Linked DNA regions of Homo sapiens. The protein of the gene in region 1 purifies or fractionates together with the protein of each later gene. This does not show direct contact. Each region holds a gene or a part of one and is shown in the gene's direction. Other genes may lie near its edges.

Evidence for each region.
Region 2: the proteins of RAB18 (region 1) and NCAPD3 purify together in Homo sapiens (co-immunoprecipitation; one large-scale study listed by IntAct). This does not show direct contact.
Region 3: the proteins of RAB18 (region 1) and ING3 purify together in Homo sapiens (co-immunoprecipitation; one large-scale study listed by IntAct). This does not show direct contact.
Region 4: the proteins of RAB18 (region 1) and TANGO6 purify together in Homo sapiens (co-immunoprecipitation; one large-scale study listed by IntAct). This does not show direct contact.
Region 5: the proteins of RAB18 (region 1) and TMCO4 purify together in Homo sapiens (affinity purification with western blotting, with the first as the bait; one study listed by BioGRID). This does not show direct contact.
Region 6: the proteins of RAB18 (region 1) and SRFBP1 purify together in Homo sapiens (affinity purification with mass spectrometry; one large-scale study listed by BioGRID and IntAct). This does not show direct contact.
Region 7: the proteins of RAB18 (region 1) and SLK purify together in Homo sapiens (co-immunoprecipitation; one large-scale study listed by IntAct). This does not show direct contact.

What each region holds. Positions count from the first base shown.
Region 1 is NC_000010.11:27,528,304-27,531,803, forward strand, and holds part of RAB18 (ras-related protein Rab-18), read left to right. Parts: intron 1-3,225; coding exon of another isoform or gene 3,226-3,312; intron 3,313-3,500. UniProt on the Homo sapiens protein: The small GTPases Rab are key regulators of intracellular membrane trafficking, from the formation of transport vesicles to their fusion with membranes.
Region 2 is NC_000011.10:134,161,468-134,164,967, reverse strand, and holds part of NCAPD3 (condensin-2 complex subunit D3), read left to right. Parts: intron 1-3,076; coding exon 3,077-3,187; intron 3,188-3,500.
Region 3 is NC_000007.14:120,974,777-120,977,716, forward strand, and holds the end of ING3 (inhibitor of growth protein 3), read left to right. Parts: coding exon 1-68; 3' UTR 69-2,440; downstream 2,441-2,940. UniProt on the Homo sapiens protein: Component of the NuA4 histone acetyltransferase (HAT) complex which is involved in transcriptional activation of select genes principally by acetylation of nucleosomal histones H4 and H2A.
Region 4 is NC_000016.10:68,923,531-68,927,030, forward strand, and holds part of TANGO6 (transport and Golgi organization protein 6 homolog), read left to right. Parts: intron 1-3,500.
Region 5 is NC_000001.11:19,797,117-19,801,171, reverse strand, and holds the start of TMCO4 (transmembrane and coiled-coil domain-containing protein 4), read left to right. Parts: upstream 1-1,255; 5' UTR 1,256-1,317; exon of another isoform or gene 1,318-1,670; coding exon of another isoform or gene 1,671-1,688; intron 1,689-1,822; exon of another isoform or gene 1,823-1,998; intron 1,999-2,956; 5' UTR 2,957-3,035; exon of another isoform or gene 3,036-3,098; coding exon of another isoform or gene 3,099-3,101; intron 3,102-4,055.
Region 6 is NC_000005.10:122,017,475-122,020,974, forward strand, and holds part of SRFBP1 (serum response factor-binding protein 1), read left to right. Parts: intron 1-1,785; coding exon 1,786-1,867; intron 1,868-2,613; coding exon 2,614-3,328; intron 3,329-3,500. UniProt on the Homo sapiens protein: May be involved in regulating transcriptional activation of cardiac genes during the aging process. May play a role in biosynthesis and/or processing of SLC2A4 in adipose cells.
Region 7 is NC_000010.11:103,973,640-103,977,139, forward strand, and holds part of SLK (STE20-like serine/threonine-protein kinase), read left to right. Parts: intron 1-3,500. UniProt on the Homo sapiens protein: Mediates apoptosis and actin stress fiber dissolution.

The sequences.
Region 1 (3,500 bases):
TTTTTAAAGAAGAGAGGTTTTCCCCCTGGCTGTAAGAATAATACAGGGTCATTCTAAAAGGGATAATTGAGACAATAAGAAGAGCAGAGAAGAACATCTATAAAAGTATACCACTGAATACATTTTAGTGAGCATTCTTTAAAATATCAAGGGATATGTATACATACCACTATACATACCAGTATGTGAGTTTTCCAAAACAAAGGGATTATATTATATCTTACATTTTTAAACCTGTTTGTCCTCCTTTCCTACCACCTCACCCCCACTCATAGTATGTGCTGTATCCGTTTAGATGGCCAGCTAGTATTCCGTTTCATAGCTGTACTTTAGTCAGCCTTCAGTGAGAGATACTTACATTTTTGCCAGCTTTTCACAAAGATTACAGCTCTTTGAGCATCCTGATTTATACGTCTGTGTGTACTTGTCCAGTTACTTTAGAATGTGTAGCTGGAAGTAGAAATGAATATGAAGTCTTCACATTAATGTACACCAAAAAGCCTTTTTTTTCAGTTTATACTCCCACCAATTGTATTCATATTCATTCTGCCACATCCTTATCTCTACTGTTATCATTCTTTCTGTTTTTGCCTCTGAGTGTTGCTGTTTTACTTATATTTGCATTTCTTTTGATAAGAGATTTTTGCCTGTTTATTGATCATTTTAAAAAATAAGTTTTCTTTTTACATATTTTACCCATTTTATACGTTAGCATTCATCTTTTTCTTCATTAAAGTCTTTATATAATAAAATTATTAGCTCTTTGTCATGTGGTACAATTTTCTAAGCTATCATTTGCCTTTAAAATCATGTATCAGTTGAATATATGTTTGTGTTCTTGTGTGTGTGTGTAATACTGCCATATGCTACAGATTTTTTTTTCCAGTTTGTCATTTACCTTCCAATATTGTTAAGGATGAATATGGGGATGGGGAGGTGAAGAGGAGGTAAAGGGTGTTCTTGTCATTTCAAGGTTTTAATATTTATATGGTTGGATCAGCTATTTTCATCATGGCATTTGGGTGTAACGTATTTAGGAAGGCGTTTCCTCTGTATTAGAAATATATGAATCCATAGTTGCCTAATTCTTCTATAGTTTTATTTATAAAATGAGTTTCTCTCCTACTTGGAAGCTTCTTCTAGGATGAAATAGAATAATTAAGCATAGCCCTGCCCCTCCTACCTCCTGAAAGTGCATACTCATCATGACCTTGTTTTCTTCTACTGCCTTTTCCTATGTCCTTGCTTCACTTTCACTCCCTACATCTATTATTAAGCCTTTCTAGATCTTTCCTAGCCCTGAGTTTATCTATATATCTTTCAGTAATTTCTTCTCTCCTTCCCCCATCAGAAAATAAAACTACAGGATAGAGACAAAAAGCTGTGCTTCATTTATCTTACAAAGATGTTATTATACCTACCACATATTCCTGTTTTGAAAACAAACACAAGCAACAATCTAACTTCTATTTAAGCATATACACTTTATAGTTACTATAAATCCTGATGCGATGCTATTGCACATGGTTCCCTCCACCCCCTAAATTATAACACCTATTTAAACACTTTTGTAAGTGAATCCAAAAATGGCAAGCCTCTAAACATCTGGCCTAATTATTAATAAATATTCACAAGCAAAGTTTCAAAGTCAAGTGTAATATTTCAACATTAAAACTTTCTTGCTATGGTTTTTACTTTTAAAACATCAGGATTTATGGATATTTTAACTGGAATTGCAGTTCTGATTTTTATGTTGTGTTTCATTAAGGCAGTTTTTGAAGTTGATCTCAATGAAGACCAGAGAGAACAAAGTTCATGTTCACTTGTTTTTCTGCCAGCTCTGGAAGTTATGGATACAGTTTCCTTATGCAAATAGAATAAACTTTCTTCCTGTTATCAAAAAGTCTTGGGGCTAAAATATTTCATACTTGGTCCTTGCCTCAAACTATTTGTTATGAATATAGAACAGTGTTCCATGTATGGAAAAATAGCTGCTTCTTAAATTTCCAAATTCACTAATTCACTGTATAGAAAAATAGCTGCTTCTTAAATTTCCAAATTCAGTAATTCACTGTTCCAAATCCAAGGCTTGTCTTTTCAGTAATGGCTTTTCCTTCTTTTTTTTTTTTCTTTCTCTCTAAAACAGATAGTCTGTACTACTAAAAGTTAAATGCTTAACATGGTGCAGTTCTCAAAGTTATAATGTATCTGGATACTGAATAATTTGAATATTACTAATTTGTCATTTTTTGCATGTAAGCAGATAGCTAGGATACGTTCTCATAATGATTTGTCATTTAAAAATATACATTTTTTATTGAGTATGAATCAGATTGTCTGAAATAGGTACTAGTACAAGGCTATGAAGAGCATTTCTAGTTTCTTATTATATATATTACCAATTGCTTCCTAAAAGTGGTGACACTTTTACTGATACACATAGTAATCATTTTACTATGATATGCATAGTAGTTACATCTTTTGGCTTCTAGTTGATTACTTTTTTTTTCCCTGCAAATTTGGGTTTTGATTACTTGAGCATAGTGATCAAAAAAGATCACTGGGCATCCATATACCGTTTCATTAATGATTAATGGACTACAATATTGACTTGTCTCATGTTATCAAAGTTATAATCTGCTTTATATAGCAAGTTCACTTTGCTTTAAACAGCTTTTAATTTATATTATTGTTCTTGAAAAGGTGAGTAAATATGCAAATTGAATAATTTTAAAATCCAAGGCAGGTTTTGTAAGAAACTTAGAGGCAGAGAGAATTTTTGTAAAGAGAAAAATTATTTATTTTATAAATTTATCTGTTCAGAACATTTACTTTAAATCTGTTAATTCTTCACTTAAGCATGGCAGGGTGGGGATTAGTTTCTGTGGTGGTAAGGATCTGGAAGGAAAGGCTTTCAAATTTATGTAAGTGTATCTGTGGAAGAGTGGTGAATGTTCAAAGTGGTTTACATTGAAACGTTACTTTCCTCTTAAGTTTCTCTTCTGGGGTTATAAATGACTGCAGATCCTCCCTACTGTCTTGCTGAAGCCCCTCACGCCCCTGGTTTGAATTCTTCTCCAATCTTATAAACCTCTTACAGGTTATTCTAACATTTTTATATCTGGGGGAGCTTCTGCTTGTCCCATAACAAACCCTCATTTACAGCAGTGGGACTGGTAGCTAAGTTGAGGTTTGATACATGTTTTTACTTTTACTTTTCTTTAGGTTACTTTGCATCAGCAGACTGCAAACTTTTTCTTAAAGAGCCAGATAGGAAATAGTCCAATCCTGAAGTGGGCCATGTGGCAATACGTAAGCAAATAGGCCTGCTGTGTTTCAATAAAACTTTATTTAATAAAACAGGTGGTGGGCTGAGCTGCTTTGTATAATCTTAGGTACCTTGAATCCATAGTCCAAGGATGGTAGAAAGACAAGAGAGAGAAGGAATTGGGCCCGGAAGTAAAGGCTTGTTAAATAGGTTCATTCTTTTTTTTTTTTCT
Region 2 (3,500 bases), on another chromosome or scaffold:
CTAAGCTTATGTCACAAGTGAGTGTGCCCCTCCCCCTAAGCTCATCTCACAAGTGAGTGTGCAGCTCCCCCTAAGCTCATGTCACAAGTGAGTATGTAGCTCCCTCAAGCTCATGTCACACGTGAGTGTTCAGCTCCCCTAAGGTCATTTCATGAGTGTGAAGTTCCCCTAAGTTCATTTCACGAGTGTGCAGCTCCCCCAAGCTCATGTCACAAGTGAGTGTGAAGCTCCCTAAACTCATGTCGCAAGTGAGTGTACAGCTCCCCTAAGCTTATTTTACAAGTGAGTGTGCAGCTCCCCCAAGCTCATGTCACAAGTGATTATGCGGCTCCCTCAAGCTCATGTCACAAGTGAGTGTGCAGCTCCCCTAAGCTCATGTCACAAGTGAGTGTGCAGCTCCCCTAAGCTCATTTCACAAGTGAGTGTCCCACTCTTCTCACCATCTACTGGCTTCCGTGTTCTCCCTGGAATCCTGGTGCCATGCTCTGGTGCTGACTTCTTTCTTACTGATGGCTTTAACTCTTGCCAGATGGTGACAATTCTCAAACCTGTTTCCCACTCCAGCATTTCTCATGAGCCTGAGCTCAGGTCCCCCTGCTGCCAGGACGTGCTCCGGGTGTCTCTGACTTACTCTGTCAAAACTCCCTCAGTCATCTCTTCTTTCTGCTCTTCATCTCCTCTTTCTCCCACAGTTTATGGTGCTCTTGCAGACTGGAGTCTGGTGTGTCAGGCTGAGGCTTTTGTTGGCAGGAAGTGTAGAATTTGGATCTGAATGACTGGGGCAGAGCTTGGCTGCCACAGGCCTCTGCAGGCCTGTGTTTTCCTCCTAGCCTGGATTGCCAATGTGTATTTCCCACCTGGCCTCTGGAGGCTTTTGACTCCAAGGATATAGACTCTGATCATATCTTGCCACAAGATCCTGCCTGTTTTCTCTTACCAATCTATCTCTCTAGTTCTGACCTTATTTAAGCTTATCCCATTTCCATGGTTTCCTTACCACCCTTTCTGTTTCTGGTTTCTTTCTGTCACAGGCCATGTACCACCTTGCTGCCAGAGCAGTCTTTCTTTCTTTTTCTTTTTTTTTTTTTTTTTTTTTGAGACAGAATCTCACTGCGTCGCCCAGGCTGGAGTGCAGTGGCGCGATCTCAGCTCACTGCAAGCTCCGCCTCCCAGGTTCACGCCATTCTCCTGCCTCAGCCTCCCGAGTAGCTGGGACTACAGGCCCCTGCCACTGTGCCTGGCTAACTTTTTTTTTTTTTTTTTTTTTGAGACACAGTATCACACTGTTGCCCAGGCTGGAGTGCAGTGGTACGATCTCTGCTCAGTGCAAGCTCTGCCCCCCTGGGTTCATGCCATTCTCCTGCCTCAGCCTCCCTAGTAGCTGGGACTACAGGCACCAGCCACCACGGCCGGCTAGTTTTTTTGTATTTTTAGTAGAGATGGGGTTTCACAGTGTTTGCCAGGATGGTCTCAATCTCCTGATCTCGTGATCTGCCCGCCTCGGCCTTCCAAAGTGCTGGGATTACAGGCATGAGCCACCACACCCAGCCCAGCAGTCTTTCTTAAGTACAAATTTGATCATTTTATTATATCTGAAACAGACTAAAGGCAGGTTGACTGTGAGGGGTGGCAGGAAGCTTTTGGGTGATAGATGGTGAGTGGTCTGTAGTGCTGGTTATTCCATATAGACTTTTGTCAAAGCTCATGGAAGTGTTTGTTTAAAATGGGTAAATTTATTACATATGTTATACTTCACTAGTGAAATCTTTAAAAACTATGCTGGTGGCTTCCTGTCATCTTCTGAATAAACCCTGATTCTTCTTTTTCAAGGTAAACAAGAACTTCTGGTGTGCCTTCCACCTTTCCCATACCTCCCTCCATCCTCACCTCTAACCTCTCCACTTCAAATTGCCATCTGCACCTCAGTTGCGAGCTGCCCCCTACTCGTGTGCTCTTGCCTCTGGGTCTAAAGTCTGCAGCGCCCTCACCCACCCATCCTCCCTTCTCCACACATCCTCAGGATCATCCATCAGATGGCCATGCACTCCTTAGGCATCCCATCTCCATACCTAAATTCCCTAACACCCTGCCACTTAACACCTCTTCCCTTGAGACACACACTTTCTAGAAGTGGCTGGAGGGCAGGGATGCTTAGCTTCATTTTGCATCCTCAGAGGGTTAGCTCTTTGCCTGGACAGAGAAGGTGCTTGATAATACTTGTCAAGTGAATGCATGGAAGCCACTTCTTAAGACTATTCCTGAACATAACATCTGCTCACATCTGGGTTTATTAAATTGCTTATTTCTCTACTTGTTGTCCTTCTGTTTCAGGAACTCTGATAAGACTTTTTAGAAATGAGTAGTTTACAAGGAAGAAACATACACTAGTGACTTTAAATGAGAAGGAAAAGAGTAGTTTCAGCTTCAGGAGGATAAATCTTGCATATGTGGGCTACTATAGTGCTTTTTTTTTAATTTAAAGAGATTCACTGGAGAATATTTGTGGTTAGTGATCATTCAAGGTAAAGTGTGAAGACTTGGTCAAATCAGGTACTATATATATAAATTCATAGTATTTTGTAGATGTGTACACAGAGAGAGAGACAGAGCTGGCTGTCTTCATGCTTAGCCATTTTTAGACCATTGTCCCTTCACCAGCAGGAATACGAAGTGTCCCTCTGGGTAGCCAGAACGAGCTGACTTCTGTTCCAAGGGGAGGGTGTTGAATTGAGGACTGAAGGTGGAGCAAGAGCCAAGGTCCCTCAGGGTCTTCTGTGGAGATTTGGGGCTTTTGTCAAAAGCTACTCAACATGTTTCTAATTCTTTTTCCCCATTTAGAATATATGAGTAGTATTTGTCCCCACCCTATCTTACAAAGCCTTCAGAGTGTTTTGAGGTAATGCTTACAAAGTCTCCCAGAGAAAAGCAGAGGTCCTCTACATCCAGTATCATAATGAAAAGCAAAAATAAACTTACATAGTGTGGTAGGGTGGCTCTACTCAAAGAACTAGATCAAGGAGAGGCCTGTCTTTCAGAAGTTCATACATCTAAAACATGTCTTTGTTTGTGTTACCAGGTTCAGAAGAGGAATTTCATAGAAAATATTATTCCAATTATCATCTCCCTGAAGACTGTGCTGGAGAAAAATAAGATCCCAGCTTTGCGGGAACTCATGCACTATCTCAGGGTAAGGGTGGAGCCTGTGCTTTTGTGGTTGTTGTCCTACCAGTTCATTACTTAGGATCTTCTGCCAGTTATGACAGTGCAGGCAATCCGTGAATGATTAGAACCCCAAATTCTGCAAACCCAACATTACCTTGGTAACTGCTGTGGAGCTAGGGGTTGGCTGTGGGTTCCACCAAAGCCGCTCTTTCCCTTGGATGTGCAGCCAGGGCCGTGAAGAGCCGGCCCACTGTGCCAAGCACGTCTTCCCTTAATGGAGTTCAAGTCCATCTGGAAAACTTTCCCAGCTGGGGTCAAGAACACAGTCATCTTCGTTC
Region 3 (2,940 bases), on another chromosome or scaffold:
CAAAAGGCAAATGGTACTGTCCACAGTGCACTGCTGCAATGAAGAGAAGAGGCAGCAGACACAAATAAAGGTGGTCCTTTTGTTTGATGAAGAAATAAACTTCAGCTGAAGATTTTATATAGGACTTTAAAAAGAAGAGAAGAGAAAGAAGAAACAATGCATTTCCAGGCAACCACTTAAAGGATTTACATAGACAATCCTATAAGATCTTGAACTTGAATTTTATGGGTTGTATTTTAATAATGTAAGTAAATTATTTATGCACTCCTGGTGTGCTATGAATATTATTCCAGTTAGCCTTGGATTATTTCAGTGGCCAACATATGCAGACATTTGTACTCCTCAACCATTTTCTCAAAGTAATGGGCATTCTATGATTTAGACTTCAAGGAATTCCAATGATGAAGATTTTAAGGAAAGTATTTTATATTCAACAGGTATATTCTGCTGCATGTACTGTACTCCAGAGCTGTTATGTAACACTGTATATAAATGGTTGCAAAAAAAAAAAAAAGTCAGTGCTTCTAAAAAGAATTTAAGATAATGGTTTTTAAAATGCCTTTATAATAAGCTTTGTTTCTTTGTGAAACTAATTCAGCAGGCTGAAGGAAATGGTTCATGTGATAATGTGGGCTGGTATCCTCTAGAGTACCTGGGTACATAAACAGAAACTCCTGTAGGTAAAAAGTAATTTGTGCCATTAGTCTTTCTATGTTTCTGCATCCAGATAGAGTGCAGTTCATGAGGGAGGGGGCGGGGGACTGAAGGGGAAAGGGCGTTAAAGTGATACATTTTTATACCAAATGTGTTTATTTTTTTGTGCAAGTAATCCTTAAAATTGCAATTGTATTAGGTGTTAAAATAAAGTTTTTAAAAAATTACTTGTATTTATACTTTACATACTTAATAATGAAAATTTCTGAATTCCAATTAACTTTCAACTTTCATAATCTAAAAAGAATCAGAGACCCAGGACACAGAATACTGTGTAATCTGTGATGTCTTTAATGATGTTTAGAGTTTGTGATATAAGAATACAGGAAAGACATTTTTAATGTAAATTTGAAATGCCAATGTATTTTTTTAAGAACATCATCTGGCTTTTCCTTCAGTCTAAAAGACATGAAAGAAGTGTAAGTATAGCAGTTAAAACGAAAATAATGGTTATGGGTGTTTTGACTGGAGGCAATGTAGCCAAATAGAGTAAAGAGACCCCCCTGGTCGGGAGCTCCAAATTGAGCTATTTTTGATTCTACCACTTACTGATATGACAGTTAATTCAAATTTTGTATCACTCTGGGCCTTACTACACCAGGGTGATGCTGACTGCAGAATAGATCTTATTCTAAGGTGCTATTTAAATTATAAATTTGCATAGTGGAGGTTTTATTTAAAGTATAATATTGAGTCTGGTCGATAGAAAAATCCTTAACTTTTAAGATACTTAATATATCATATATATTTTATATTGAAACTTACTGGGTCCATCAGATTTCTGCTTTAATTAAACCACTTATGAGCTTCTTAGAACTTATTCAGATAACAGTGTAAAATCTATGCAGTGCTACCCAAAGGGTGTGAGGTAGATAGGGGATTTCAAAGATCTCTTCCACCTTTGAGATCCCATGATTCTGAGCTGCCACAGTCTGATTATACAACTCTACCAGCTCCCTAAACAAGTTAGGTTCATTTGTGAGTACTCATCATTTCATAATATCATGATTATCACGATTTCATGATACTCAATATTTTGAGATTTTATAACCCTTTAAGAAGTGATAAATAATGTAGTATTCAATTCGTTTATCAAAGTATATTGCCTGGAAATGCTCACATGTATCATTTACATCCTCTATATATTATGACTATTCCAAACTCATTCATTTTATAGAAATGGTCAAAGGAAAAAGCCTTATGTACAGCCTTATTTGAAGAGAAAGTTCTTTGTCTGAGTCAGGAACATCCTGTTATCCAGCTGCTACATCCCCTTTCAGTGTGAATTCCACTCCTTACCAAATCACTTAGAAAACACTTTGACAAGTTTTAAACTCAAACACTGAATATTTTATGAAGCATGTGTAAAGAAAGAAACCAAAATTTGGTGCAGGTATTTAGTAATGGGTAGAACCTGTTAATATCTGAGTCATATATAATGGGGCCAAACATGGAACTACCTCATCAACCCCCCAAAAATGTGGCCAACTATTAATATTCTTTGTGACATTTACACCAAGGGGCATAGTAAGTATTTTTGGTATTATAAAATACACATTCAAAATCTCTGTTGTACAAAACTCATGTAACAGTTGGGACAAAATATCCAAATGTGGGTTCACAGTTCACAGGTGGTGAAAATTGAGGCCTTACTGCTATGGAGTGTATATCAAAATGTTCATGGTGACACATTTGAAGCAATAAATGGCTTAATTAAATGCCAAAATGAGGCTGAGTGTTTGATAAGCATACAATCATTCTTTTCAAGGGCAGTTTATATTTTTTTGTTCTCTTCTCCTTTAAAGCAAATTCCACGTTTTAGGTTTTTAACCATCTTAGGTTTGTGCAATATTAGTGCCCTTTGTCTTTAGACTTTAGGAATGGTCTTATTGACCTAATTAATTATTTTAATCTTATGCAAATAAATGTCTAACAAACTTGGGTTATAAAGGGGTATAAGATACTCCTTAATGTGTAGACATTGCAATGGTTTCCCCTCAGCTCTCACAGATAAAAATACATTTATTTTTTAGCAGATGGGTTTTAAGAGAAAAAAAGACCCTTAAAAATATTCTTTAACTTTACAAATACTAAGCACCTAGATTCTGAGAATATACAGATGAAGGTATTATATGTGTGTGTGGGGGGAGTTGGTGGGGGCAGACATGTTAAATGTGTTATCTTGATGAATGCTGTAATGGATACACAAAGCACTGGGAGAACACT
Region 4 (3,500 bases), on another chromosome or scaffold:
TTCACCGAGCCCAATTTGGGTGCTCTATAGAACTGCTTGGGAAAATTCCCATTATTTCAAGCTGTTATATAGAACTCCAAAGAGCAGACAATCCTTCTTAATTGCTGTTGCTTTCAAGCAGCCTCATTTAGAGATGTCTTACTTTCTGCCATATTTAATAAACCTGCCACAGTAGGTACTTAATTAACAGTTTTTGAATGGATGGATAAATGGAAGGAAGAAAGAATAAAAGGAAGAAAGGAAAGGTGATGTCTAATGAAGGAGGCATGATTTGTTTTGTTTTGTTTTGTTTTGTTTTGTTTTGTTTTGTTTTTTCAAAAGGGCATGAGCTCAAAAAGTTGAAAAACACTGCCCTCACCCATAGTGAGCAACCTCCAGATCTGGGCACACCCATGGGAGTGTTGTGAATGTTAGTCATGTGTTATCAGGGGCAAAGGAGAGCCATGCTTCTTGTTTTCACAGGCTTTCACTTGATTATCCTCTAGGTAATCCAGTCTTTTATCAGAATTTCCCTAGAGTGGAGAGGCATCCTTCAACTGCTTGTATGCAGGTGATCAAACTGGCTAAAAAAGCCCTTACTTGCAAACCACAGTGCCTCCAATTTTACAACTTAAAAAGAAAATGACTTTCCAGTTAACTAAGCTGACTAGTTCTCTCTAATTCTTTTGCTTTTGAGATTAAACCATCTATTTCTGGAATTGTCTTCATTGTGCTCATTTATACACATCGTTAAAGATTTTCAGAGCTTTGGCCAGGTGCCAGTGGCTCACGCCTATAATCCCAGTGCTTTGGGAGGCCGAGGCAGGAGGATCACCTGAGGTCAGGAGTTCCAGACCAGATCAGCTACTCGGGAGGCTGAGGCAGGAGAATTGCTTGAACCCAAGAGGCAGAAGTTGCAGTGAGCTGAGATCACACCATTGCACTCCAGCCTGGGCAACAAGAGTGAAACTCCCTCTCAAAAAAAAAAGGCTCCTCAGCTGGGCACGGTGGCTCATGCCTGTAATCCCAGCACTTTGGGAGGCTGAGGTGGGAAGATCACCTGAGGTCAGGAGTTCGAGACCAGCCTGGCCAAAATGGCAAAACCCCATCTCTACTAAAAATATAAAAAAATTAGCCGGGTATGGTGGCGGGCACCTGTCATCCCAGCTACTTGAAAGGCTGAGGCAGGAGGATCGCTTGAACGTGGGAGGCGGAGGATGCAGTGAGCTGAGATCATGCCATTGCACTCCAGCCTGGGTGACAAGAGCAAAATTCCGTCTCAAAAAAAAGAAAACAGAAACAAACTCCTCACATAGCTGCTGCCACCCAGTGCATTTCCCTGGACAACCCCAGGGGCTAGATGTTCAATGAGTAAATACCCCCATACAGGTTGTGGGCACCTGGTTGTCCAGCCCGAGGCCAGGGATCCCAGGTCACACCCTTGATCAGGGAGGGATCAAGGTGCTTCTGCCATGCCCAGGATTGAGAACTCTGTGGATGCAAAGAGGGGTGGGTGGGAAGCCTGGTGTGGTGGCTCACGCCTGTAATCCCAGCATTTTGGGAGGCTGAGGTGGGCGGATCACATGAGGTCAGGAGTTTGAGGCCAGCCCCGGCAACATGGCAAAACCCTGACTCTACTAAAAATACAAAAATTAGCCAGGCATGGTGGCCGCACCTGGAGTCCCAGCTACTCAAGAGGCTGAGGTGGGGGAATCGCTTGAACCTGGGAGGTGGAGGTTGCAGTGAGCCAAGATTGTGCCATTGCACTCCAGCCTGAGCAATAGAGCAAGACTCTGTCTCAAAAAAAAGAAAAAATTGCAATTCCCTAATGACTTATGACATTGAGTATGTCTTCCTATGCTTATTTGCCATCTGTATATCTTCTTTGGTAGGGTATTCTTCTTTGGTAGACCTATCTGTTAAGGTCTTTTGCCCATTTTTAAGTCAGGTTGTTCATTTTCTTATTGAGTTTAAAGAGTTCTTTGTATATTTTGGATATTAGTCCTTTTTCAGATATGTCTTTTACAAATATTTTCTCTCATTCTGTAGTTTGTCTTCTCATTCTCTTGACAGTTTCTTTTGCAGAGCAGACATTCTTAATTTTAATAAGGTCCAGGTTTTTAACTATTTCTTTCATAGATCATGCCTTTGCTGTTGTATTTAAAAGGTCATTGCTTTTAAGAGGTCATCTCAATTTTCTACTATGTTAACTTGTAGGAGTTTTATAGTTTTGTATTTGACAGTTAGGTTTATGATCCATTTCAAGTTAATTTTTGTGCAAGGTGCAAGGTCTGTGTCTAGATTCATTTTTTCACATGTGCATGCCAGTTGTTCCAGCACCATTTGTTGAAAAAACTGTCTTTTCTACTGACACTTGTTCCAATTAAAAAAAAAAAAAAGAAAAAAGAAACTGTATTTTTTTTTCCATTTAAAGCCTTTGCTCCTTTGTCAAAGTTCAGTTGACTCTATTTATCTGGGTCTATTTCTGGCCTTTCTGTTCTGTCCCATTGATCTATTTGTCTTGGCTGGTTTTTTTTTTTAGAAGAAATTGTTATATAGAAGAGAAATTAAAAAAGAGGCCAAATAGACTGTAGGTAAATTATTCTCATTTTAGATGCTTTAAAAAAGTCCATGATACAACCGAGGCACTGAATGAAGTTTAGCATAATGATAATACTAGTATAATTATTTGAAAATGTCTCGGCCGGGCACCGTGGCTCATGCCTGTAATTCCAGCACTTTGGAAGGCCAAGGTGGGCGGATCACCTGAGGTCCGGAGTTCAAGACCAGCCTGGCCAACATGGTGAAACCCCGTTTCTACTAAACTATAAAAAATTAGCCAGGCATGGTGGCGTGTGCCTGTAGTCCCAGCTACTCGGGAGGCTGAGGCAGGAGAATGGCGTGAACCCGGGAGGTGGAGGTTGCAGTGAGCCGAGATTACGCCATTGCACTCCAGCCTAGGCAGCAGAGCGAGACTCCGTTTCCAAAAAGAAAAGAAAAAAATAAAAATAAAAAGGATTTTTTTTTCTTTTTTTTGAGACAGAGTCTCGCTCTGTTGCCCAAGCTGGAGGGCAGTGGCGTGATCTCAGCTCACTGCAACCTCTGCCTCCCGGGTTTAAGCGATTCTCCTGCCTCAGCCTTCCGAGTAGCTGGGACTACAGGCACATGCCACCATGCCCAGCTGATTTTTGTATTTTTAGTAGAGGTGGGGTTTCGCCATGTTGGCCAGTAAAAAGGACTTAAGATCCTTAAGGTATTCAAATTTTCAGGGTCTCCTGAAGCCTCATCTGATAATTTCTCCAGTGTTTTCAAACAGAAAAGTATTACCATTGATTCTTACTTTTCATTGATCACACATACACCTTTTGGGTGGCAGTGGGTGAGGGGGGTGCTTTCCAGTGAAGACCAGAAAACCTGCTAGACAAATTCTAATAGAGCTGTAACACTCATGCACCTTTCTTAGTAGTAAGGCATATGACATTATTCAGACAAAGCTTCCATGGAGAATAAAATGTTATATA
Region 5 (4,055 bases), on another chromosome or scaffold:
TCTGGACCTGAGCCTCGGTTTCCTCTCCTTCAGAGTGGGTGTGATGAAATTTCACAGGGTTGCTAGGGGAAAGAGATCCATTCATTAAGTGCTTCTTTTGAGCACCTGCAAGTGCTAGGCACAGTCCCTGGGGCTGGGCACACAGCGGAGAGCAAGGCAGCCTAAACCCGCCCACCTCCAGGGCTTTTAAAGTCTAGTTGGGGCTGCGCGGTGGCTCACGCCTGTAATCCCAGCACTTTGGGAGGCCGAGGCGGGTGGGTCACCAGAGGTCAGGAGTTCGAGACCAGCCTGGCCAACATAGCAAAACCCCGTCTCTACTAAAAATACAAAAATTAGCCGGGTGTGGTAGCACACGCCTGTAGTACCAGCTACCAGGGAGCCTGAGGCAGGAGAATCGCTTAAATCCGGGAGGCGGAGGTTGCAGTGAGCTGAGATCGGGCCAGTGCACTCCAGCCTGGGTGACAGAGCGAGACTCTTATCTCAAAAAAAAAAAAAAAAAAAAAAAAAGAACTGTACCTGGCGCGTAGTAGGTGCTCGGTAAATTTGTTCAATGACTGAATGTGCTGGGTGCTCAGGGAAGACTCTCAGATCCCATCCCAAGAGACCAGAATGGAAAGCAGGAAATGGATTGGGGGAAAGGGAGGTCTGAAGGCAGAGAGTCCCAGGCACGGGAGCCTCCAGGCAGAGGCCCTGAGACAGGACCAAACTTAGCGTTAGGGAAAATGAAAGTAGAATCAGGAAGAACTTAGATATCTGAACACTTTGCAAACTACAAAGTGCTGCATACACGTGCGGGAAGGCGGTTTCTGCGGCTGGTTCTTTGTTTACATTATACATTTTTGAAGACTTTGTCTTCAAAATGTGGCTTTGGGGCATGCCACTCTCGGGGCCGAGTCCTTCGCGGGCAGTTTCTGCAAAGTCCAACCCTGCAGGGCCCTTCTCCCGCGCCGCGCTGTCTCGCTGCTTCCTGGAGGGTAAATGGACCCACACACAGATGTGGCGCCGCGGGCTTGCCGGTCACCTGCAGAGGCCGGCACCCCTGTCGCGATGGGTGGTGGAGGTGGGGCAGAGGTGGGACGAGCCAGGTCGGGACCCGCAGCTGGCGAGTCAGAGCCTGGAAGGCCCCGCGCCCCCGCGCCGCGCTCCCTAAGTGCTCCGCCCGGCCGGTGGCGACCAGGCGCGCTCGGGGCAGGCGGCGGGACGGGCCGGGACCGGGGCCGGGACGCGGCGGGGAGGGGAGGGGCCGGGCCGGGCCGGGCGGGAGGAGCCGCTCGCCGGTTTTGCCGCCTCCGCCTTTGCCTTCGCAGCCGCCTCCAGGTAAGGGGGCCCCGGAGGAGCCGCCAGGCCACGGTGGCGCGCACCTCGCTGGGCCACTCCCCGCCGGCCCCACGCGGGGCACTCGGAGCCCGGCCCAGCCCCGGGGCCCTTTGCCCTGCGCCCCGCCCTCCACCCCGGGGACACTGGACCCACCAGGAAGCGGCCGCGCGCTCCCTGGCGCTGCCTGCCCTAAGCCCAGGCCGCCTGCTGGTGGTTGGTTTGTTTTCAGAGCCGGAAGTGCTTTTAGAAATCTTGGGGAGGCAGAGGGGGAAACTGAGGCTGGGCGGAGCACTCGGGCGACTCCGGCCTCGGCCTCCGAGTTCTTAGAGGTCACCCAGCCGCTCCCTTGACAAATGAGGACGCTGGTCAAGGTCAGAGAGGAAGGGGGCTTGCCCAAGGTCACAAGAGGTCCCTGTGCTTCCCCTTGCCCCACGTGGCCCCTCCACGCCCCCGTCAGGAAGGCCTCTAGGACTCCCCCGCCTCCTGTCTCCCTGTCCCCCCGCAGACTCTCAAACAGAGAATTCCAGGAGGGCTTGGGGAGCCTCTGGAGAAAAACCAGGCTCCTCATGTTACAAGGAGGCCATGTCTTCTGGTGCCCATGCCTGAAGTTACAGGAGGGAAGAATTACTGCTGCTGACTTTTGAGTGGATTTTACAGCTGGGTAAACTGAGGCTCAGAGAGGTGAGGTAACTTCCCCAAGACCACACAGCTAGGAAGCAAGAGATAAAAACCTGGGCTACCTGCCTGGAGAGCCTGACCCAGTGCTTCGCACAGAGTTGGCCTCCACAATGCCTTTGCCCTGACCAGGCTGCCTGGCCCTTCCCTGGGGTTGCACTGGGAATTAGGAGCAGGGCCAGGCTAGAATCCCAGACTACTACCTAACTCGAAGTAGGAGTCAGCACATGAGCCCCCTTTTTCCTAACTCAGTGTTCATTGCAGAAAATATGACACTCTTTTAAGCTTTGGGAACATCCATTTGTTCATTCACCAAATATTTGTTGAGCACCTACTGTGTGCATTGTTTAGGCAACGAGGATACAGCAGTGAACAAAAAGGAGCGCTGCCCTCAGGAAGTACACTCCAGAGGGTGGAATAAAGCCCTGCCCTTCAGCCTGGGGAGGGAGGGCTGGGCACAGGGGAGACCACTGGCATTTCCCCAACTGTGAAGTACATGAAGACAGCAGAAGAGATCGGTATTAGAGTGGCCTCAAGCCCTCGTGTGCAGCATCAGACAGAGATGGGCTCAGGTGCTAGCTTTGCAGCTTTGTAACTGAGTGGGATCAGGCAAGTTAAATGACCTGTCTCCAAGGTTGTTGTGAAAATTAAAGGAGCTGAAGCCACAAAAGGCCCAGTGCAGTATCTGACACTTTGGGAGACTTTATACTTTTTAGTCCTAAGGCCCAAGGAGGAGTTGGACAGGAGGAGTTCATCGATTAGGTTGTCATAGCTCAGCATGTAGCTCCCACAAAAGCTGGGGTCTGGAGAGTTCCTCATAAGGCTCAAACCATCTCTCTCTACTCTGGTACCACTGGGCTACAAAGGCTGATCAGCCACCAGGGCTGGCTAACGTGGGACCTAAGAAATGTCAGTGGGTGGTTTCTCATTGTGTTCTCTTTTGGCCTGTGTGTTTTGTAAACAGTGTTGTACATTATAAACCGGGGCTGCTGATGAGGAGTGGGGAACTGGCTCTCTGGAACGTGTGACAGCAGGCAGAAGGGGTGAGAGTGAAATCCAATCCACTTTCCATTTAGCCGACCTCCGCTTCAAGCTGCCCTGATATCATGGTACCACCCTCTGCCTAAAACCCCGCTCTGGCTTCCCATTTTCTTCTTTCTCCTTTTCTTTTCTTTTCTTTTCTTTTCTTTTCTTTTCTTTTCTTTTCTTTTCTTTTCTTTTCTCTCTCTTTCTCTCTCTTTCTCTCTCTCTCCCTCCCTCCCTCCCTCTCTCCCTCCCTCTCTCTCTCTCTTTCTTTCTTCTCTCTTTTTTTTTTTTTGACAGAGTCTCACTCTGTCACCCAGGCTGGAGTGCAGTGATGCAATTTCAGCTCACTGCAACCTCCGCCTCCCAGGTTCAAGCGGTTCTCCTGCCTCAGGCTTCCAAGTAGCTGGAACTACAGGCGCCCACCATCATGCCCGGCTGATTTTTGTATTTTAGTAGAGATGGGGTTTCACCATATTGGGCTGGTCTTGAACTCCTGACCTCGTGATCTGCCCGCCTCAGCCTCCCAAAGTACTGGGATTACAGGCGTGAGCCACCGCGCCTGGCCTTGGCTTCCCACTTTCTTAAGGAAAAGAGAAAAAACCTTTTACATGGACCAGAAGGCTATGTACCACTGTCCCCTGGCCTACACCTCCAGCCGCATCTCAGACCACTTATCAACAGCCCTCTGTGCCCAGGCATGCCACCCCTCCCTCCTTGGGACCTTTGCACCTGCTCTTCCAGGCCACTTCTACCCCCTGCCTCCCTTTTCCCAGGTAACATCTTCTCATTCTTCACATTTTAGCCCTAGCCAGACTTGTACTCCAAATGCCCAGGCCACAAGACTTCTACTGGTATGTCAGAGGTTAAGTTCAGGGTGGAATTATACTCTCATTGCTGGGATTAATTCCTGCCTGTACCCTGTACACCACCCTGACTGTAACCCCTGTGACATCCAGGACCAGGGCCAAGTTTGCTTAGTAGGTGCTCAATAATGATGTCCACCTATAGGGAGGCCCTCTTGAGCATATTGGGGACCT
Region 6 (3,500 bases), on another chromosome or scaffold:
CTGGGCTTAAGACCACCCTGATCCACTGTGATTCCACATAATTTAATCTGCAAAGACTTTGTTTCCAAATAAGTTCACATTCTGAGTTTCCAGGTGGATGTGAATTTTGAGGGGACGCGATTCAACCTAGTACACAAGGTAATTAAATAGCAGATGGTCCTGGCACAGGATTTGCACCAGGTGTAATTTAAATAGATTATTCTTTGAGTGACATTACTCACATAAATCCTACAAACAGAATAGCTTGCATACTGCCATCATCTTGTTTTTATTTTGGTATTCGTACATTTATAATACTGGGTTGGAAATGTCTTATATTTGACTGTTCACAATGAAGGGTAAATTTAGGATAAAGACATTTGAAACTGGTTGTTTTACTTTCACACACTAGTGAAATTTATTCACTTGCTTTATTAAATGTGTATTGGGTGCCTACTATTATTACCAGTCACTATTCTAGGCACTGAATCTACAGCAATGAGGCAAACAAAGTCTCTGCTTTGCAGATATGAAAACATCTACACTGCCATGCAGTGGTAAGTGATGTGAAGTAAATAGTGATGGGAAGTGTTGTGCTAGTTGAGATGACATTTAAGCAGAGACCTGAATACAGTGAGATGATCAGCCGTGTATATATTTGGGAGTAGAGTATTCCAGGTAAAGAAGAGATTGCAATGGTATGGGCTAAGCATCAGAAAGCAATAAAGCTTAAAGAAGAACAGATATGGAAATAGCATGATTTGATTACATTTTTAAAAATCACCGTGGCTGTTGTGTGGAAAATTGACTGTTGAGAGAGCAAGTTGCAAAGGAGAGTGACCAGGCATAAGTTTAATTATGTTGGTCCAGGTGAGAGGTGTTGGTGATTTAGTCAAAGGTAGTAAGAATAGAAATGGTGAGAAGCGACTGGTTCTGGATATATTTTACATTTGGAACCACAGGGTGTATTGTGAGTTTTGAGGGAAAGACAAATAGTGGGAAAGAATCCTTAGAGTTTTAGGCCTGAGCAACCAGAACAATGGAAATTACATACAATAAGATGGAAAAGCTACAGGAGAAGCAGATTTGTGAGGAAAAATCAAAGAATTCTGTTTTGACAATGTCAAATAGATGTCAGGTTAGGTGGTTTGATGTATCAGCTTAGAGCTCAGGTTGGAGCTGGAGGTCGAAATTTAGATGTTGTCAGCCTTCATACGGCATTTCAAGTCATTAGCCGGCATTATGATTTTTCCAAATTTATAAATATATTGAATACTGTATATAATGTTCCCATTCAGTCTAGGCCCTGAGAACGTGTCAGTGATAGTAGACATTTAAAATAGAAATATAGAGCGTTAGATAATTTCTAGGTCTCTGTTAAATGGAACTTCAAGTATTACAGTAGTCTCACCCAGTTTAGCACTAATATGTTATTTGATTCTTTGATATTAATTTAGTCTTCTTAATTAGATTGTTCAAGCTCTTTGATAGTAAAAACTATGTTCTTTTTTTGATGTTACACATGGTGCTTATCACAATTCTGAGAATATTAAGTATCGTATCCAAAGAATATTTATTAATGATTAAGTGATAATTTTAGTTGTTCAAAGGCAGTAATATTTTTGTCAGGATGATCTTTGTCTTTAGCATGGATTGATTATACAGATATCTTATCTAAGGAGAATATTAACTAGTTCTATTCTCCAACTCTAATTTTAAAGACTATGATAGATTTTATTTTATTCACTTTCAATAGTGTCATTTTTATTTCATTCCCATACGTTTATTATATTTTTAAATTTGCAGCCAGATTCTACTGCAACTGAAAGAGCAATTGCCAGACTAGCAGTACATCCTCTTCTGAAGAAAAAGATAGATGTGCTAAAAGGTATGAATTAAATGACTTTTAAGCCATGTACTTAATGTATTTGTAGACTTTGGATAATGGCTATTCACTTATTTTAACTCTTGAGGTTCTATTATAAATATAAGTTTCTTTCAAATATTTACCAGTGTGGAAGGTGTCTGAAAATACAGAAAGTGTGATCTCTGAAGAAAAACCAAATCTGTATTGTTTAGTAAATTCTAATATGTGAACGTATAATACGTAATATATATCTTTTTATATATAATATATACAAGATAAAGTTGAATAGTTTTTTTAAAATATTGACATAACTCATTAGTTTTGGTTTCGCCACTTAGGAACATAATTTTATATATGTTTATTATAAAATATATCTATAAAATGAAATTTTTTTGTCACATGATACTGAATTTTATGTCTGAAAGCACAGTTTATAATAATGCATTATTATTATATAAATTAAAGTTGCCATTCCCTTTTATTTGTATTCTGTGATGTTTTTACTGTTCTTCATAACTCCAAGACATGAAGAAAACATTTTCTTTTCATTTTCACAATTTAAAATGAATACGTCTGAGCATATCTTATGTTTGGTTTTTAAGAAGTCGAAAGATTTCTTTGTGAATTCAGACCGAGTATATGTATTTAATATCAATTCCAACTGCCCTCTTAAATCTTTTCAAATAATTTTTTAAAATACTGTCCTAAAACAGTCATGTTTTATATGTTTCAGTGCTAAAATGAGTGATGCACTGTTTCTCTTGCAGCTGCTGTACAAGCCTTTAAAGAAGCAAGACAAAATGTTGCTGAAGTTGAGTCATCAAAGAATGCTTCAGAGGACAATCATTCTGAGAATACTTTGTATTCAAATGATAATGGAAGTAATTTACAGCGTGAAGCAACTGTCATCAGTGAGCAAAAAGTCAAAGAAACCAAAATATTGGCGAAGAAACCAATACATAATTCAAAGGAAAAAATAGCAAAGATGGAACATGGACCTAAAGCAGTGACTATTGCAAATTCTCCATCAAAGCCTTCAGAAAAGGATTCTGTAGTTTCCCTTGAGTCCCAGAAGACACCTGCTGACCCAAAACTGAAAACTCTAAGTCAAACCAAAAAAAACAAAGGATCTGATAGCTCACTCTCTGGTAACAGTGATGGCGGAGAAGAATTTTGTGAAGAGGAGAAGGAATATTTTGATGATAGCACAGAAGAAAGGTTTTACAAGCAGTCTTCCATGTCTGAAGATAGTGATAGCGGTGACGACTTCTTCATTGGGAAAGTCAGACGGACACGAAAGAAGGAAAGTAGTTGTCATTCTTCAGTTAAGGAACAAAAACCACTAGAAAAAGTGTTTCTTAAAGAAGATACAGGTGAAACTCATGGGGATACAAGAAATGACAAAATCAAGCCAAGTACAGAAACCAGAAAGTTAGAATCAGTGTTTTTCCACTCTTTATCTGGATCTAAAAGCTCTAGAAGGTAAGATTCTTTTTCTATTCTGAAATAATCATTAGTTCTTTTTTAAAAAGCTATAAATGTCTACTTGTCCATACATGAAGAGACTATAATTCTAGTTTGTACAACCCATCCTGTTTTTAGACATGGCCCTCTCCAAGGTTGTAGTGGGGTATTAGGTACAGATACACATATG
Region 7 (3,500 bases), about 76 Mb from region 1:
ACTATCTTAATAATGAGTTACAGTTTTTTTCCCTAGAAGTGGGAACACAAACTACTTCAAGGATGTTTTAAATACTTTGTTTTTCCTGTTAGAATTTCCTCCTTGTTTTTGTTGTGTACAACCTTTAGTAGCCTTCTGAGAAAGGATCCATGGAAAACATATTTTTTAAGAACTTGCCTGTCTAAATATGTCTTTATTATAAGGTCACAACTTAATATATATAATTCTAGTTCAAAAGTAAGTTTTTAAAGAATTTTTAAGATTTAGAATTTGTTAGTTTTGAAGACTTTCTTCCATTCATTATCTTTTGGCTGCAAGAGTTGCTGTTGAATGTCTGATGCCATTTGGCTTCCTGGATCCTTTGCCATCTTTTTCTCTTAATAGCCTTTAGGATTTTCTTTTATCCTCTGTTCGTGGTGATGTACTTTGATATAGGTCTTTTCTTCTTCTTTCGTTTTGCTGTGCTCTTGGTTGGTCCTTTCAATCCAAAGACTTATGTCCTTCAGTTCTGTGACATTTTCTTGTATTATTTATTTGACAGCCTCCACCCACCACTTCCCCCAATAATGACTCTTGCCATGGTCTTAAGATTCTTCATGTCCCTAAATTCAGGGGACACTTACCATCTTACTTGACCTGTCATTACCATTTGAGATACTTGGCCATTCTTTCCTTTAAAAAGTTCATCTTGGCCGGGCGCGGTGGCTCACGCTTGTAATCCCAGCACTTTGGGAGGCCGAGGCGGGTGGATCACGAGGTCAGGAGATCGAGACCATCCTGGCTAACACGGTGAAACCCCGTCTCTACTAAAAATACAAAAAAAAAATTAGCCGGGCGTGATGGCGGGCGCCTGTAGTCCCAGCTACTCGGGAGGCTGAGGCAGGAGAATGGCGTGAACCCGGGAGGCGGAGCTTGCAGTGAGCCGAGATTGCGCCACTGCACTCCCGCCTGGGCCACAGAGCGAGACTCCGTCTCAAAAAAAAAAAAAAAAAAAAAAAAAAGTTCATCTTTTGGCCTTTTTTTTTTTTTGAGATGGAGTCTCGCTCTGTCGCCCAGGCTGGAGTGCAGTGGCGCGATCTCGGCTCACTGCAAGCTCTGCCTCCCGGGTTCACGCCATTCTCCTGCCTCAGCCTCCCGAGTAGGTGGGACTACAGGTGCCTGCTACCACGCCCGGCTAATTTTTTCTATTTTTTTTTTTTTTTTTTTTTTTTAGTAGAGACAGGGTTTCACCATGTTGGCCAGGATGGTCGCGATCTCTTGACCTCATGATCCACCCGCCTCGGCCTCCCAAAGTGCTGGGATTACAGGTGTGAGCCATCTCACCTGGCCCGTCTTTTGGCTTTTAAGTCACCATACTCTTGATTTTCCTTCCACCTCTGTGTCTGTTCGTCACACTCCTTTGCTGGTTCTTCCTCTTTCTGACTTTAAGGTGTGGGAATTCCACAGGGCTTGGGTATAGGCCACCTTCTCCTTTTCTTAAGAGAACCGGTCTTCTCCCATGGCTTCAATTACCATCTAAGTGCAATTTCTATCTTTACCCTAAGACCTCCCTTTTGAACTCCAGATCCACACATCCAACTGTCTATTAGAGATTTCTGCTTGGATGTCTCACAGATACCTTAAACTGCAAGTCCAAAACATGAACTAATTCAGCTCATGATGTCAGTCACAAATTTGCTCCTTCTGTCTTCCCACTCAGTAATTACCACTTCCATCTACCAGTTGCATAGGCCAGAGACCTAGAGGTCATTTTTAACACCTGTTGCTGCCTTCCCCGCCAAACCTAATTAAACACCAAGGCCTGTTAATTCTACCTACTAAATATTTCTCAAAAATACTTCTTTCTTTCTTCACTGTCATTTCACTAGTCAAAGCTGCTATCATCTCTTAGACTACTGCAGTCTTATTGGTATGTTTTTGGGCTTCATATAATCATTTACATGATTCTTTTAATCCTGTAATCATTTAATATATTCCTTTGTGTTGGGCTTCTTTTGCCAAACATTATATGAATGAGTTTCATCCATGTTGTTGCATGTAGTAGTAATTTGATCTTTTTCTTTGCTTTATGGTATTTTATGAAATATTATAGTTTATCCATTCTGTAGTATTTGGATTGTTTTCACTTTTTGTATGTTAAAAATATGATTCACGGCCCGGTGCAGGGGCTCACGCCTGTAATCCCAGCACTTTGGGATGCCAAGGTGGGAGGGTCACTTGAGCCCAGGAGTTCAAGACCAGCCTGGGCAACATAGGGAGACCCCATCTTTATTTGTTTTATTATTATTATTTTTTCTTGAGACAGAGTCTCACCTCTGTCATCCAGGCCGGAGTGCAGTGGCGCGATCAACTCCCCAGGCTCAGGTGATCCTCCCACCCCAGCCTCCCAAGTAGCTGGGACTGTAGGCACCTGCTACCATGCCCAGCTAATTTTTATATTTTTTGTAGAGACGGGATTTTGCCATGTTGCCCAGGCTGGTCTCAAATTCTTAGGCTCAAGTGATCTGCCCACCTCGGCCTCCCAAATTGCTAAGATTACAGGTGTGAGCCACCATGTCCAGCCTTAAATTTTTTAAATTAAAAACCAAAAAATACGATTCATGAATATTCTTGTGCCTTTTGGTGCACATGTGCCATTATTTCTGTTGGATATATACCGGGAAGGAATTTTCTAGGTCATAGGTTATACATATCTTCCAAAGCGGTTGTACCAATTTACACTCCCATCAGTAGGGTATGGGAGTTTTCCCAGTTGCTCTGTGTCTTCACTTACACTTGGTATTGTTATTAATATTATCTTTAATGTTTTTTGTTAGCCATTCTGTTGAGTATAAGTGGTTTTATTTACATTTTCCTGATGACTAATGAAGTTGAGTGCCTTTTTATGTGCTTATTCAATATTTGGGTATCTTTTTTTGGTGGAATTCCTGGTTATTTGCCCAATTAAAAAAAAAAAGCTCTATTTTGAGGTATAATTTATATACCACAAAATTCACCCATATAATTTTGTGAGTTTTAGTAAATCTGTATAGTTTTGCAGCCATTACTACAATCCAGCTTTGGAAGCTTTCTGTCACCCCCCGAAAGTTCTCATGTGCCTATTTTGCAGTCTGTCTCTATTCCCACACCAAGCTCAAGATAGCCCTTACTTGCTTTCGGAATGGCTCTGTAATTTTGCCTTTTCTAGAATTTTTTAATAAGTGGAAACATACAATATGTATTCTTAATATGTATGGCTTTTTGCACTTAGCACAGGGTTTCTCAGTGTTGGCACTACAGCCGTTTTGGACAGGATAATCCTTTTTTGTGGAGGGCTGTCCTATGCACTGTAGGATGCATCCCTGACCCTACCCCTTTGTGACAACCTAAAATACTTCCAGACATTGCCAAATGTCTCCTGGATGGCAAAATCAGCACCACTGGTTGAGTGTAATTTTTCAGGATTCATCTGTGTTATTCATTTGTCTATTAAAATTTTTGGTTATTTATATTTTCCTTAA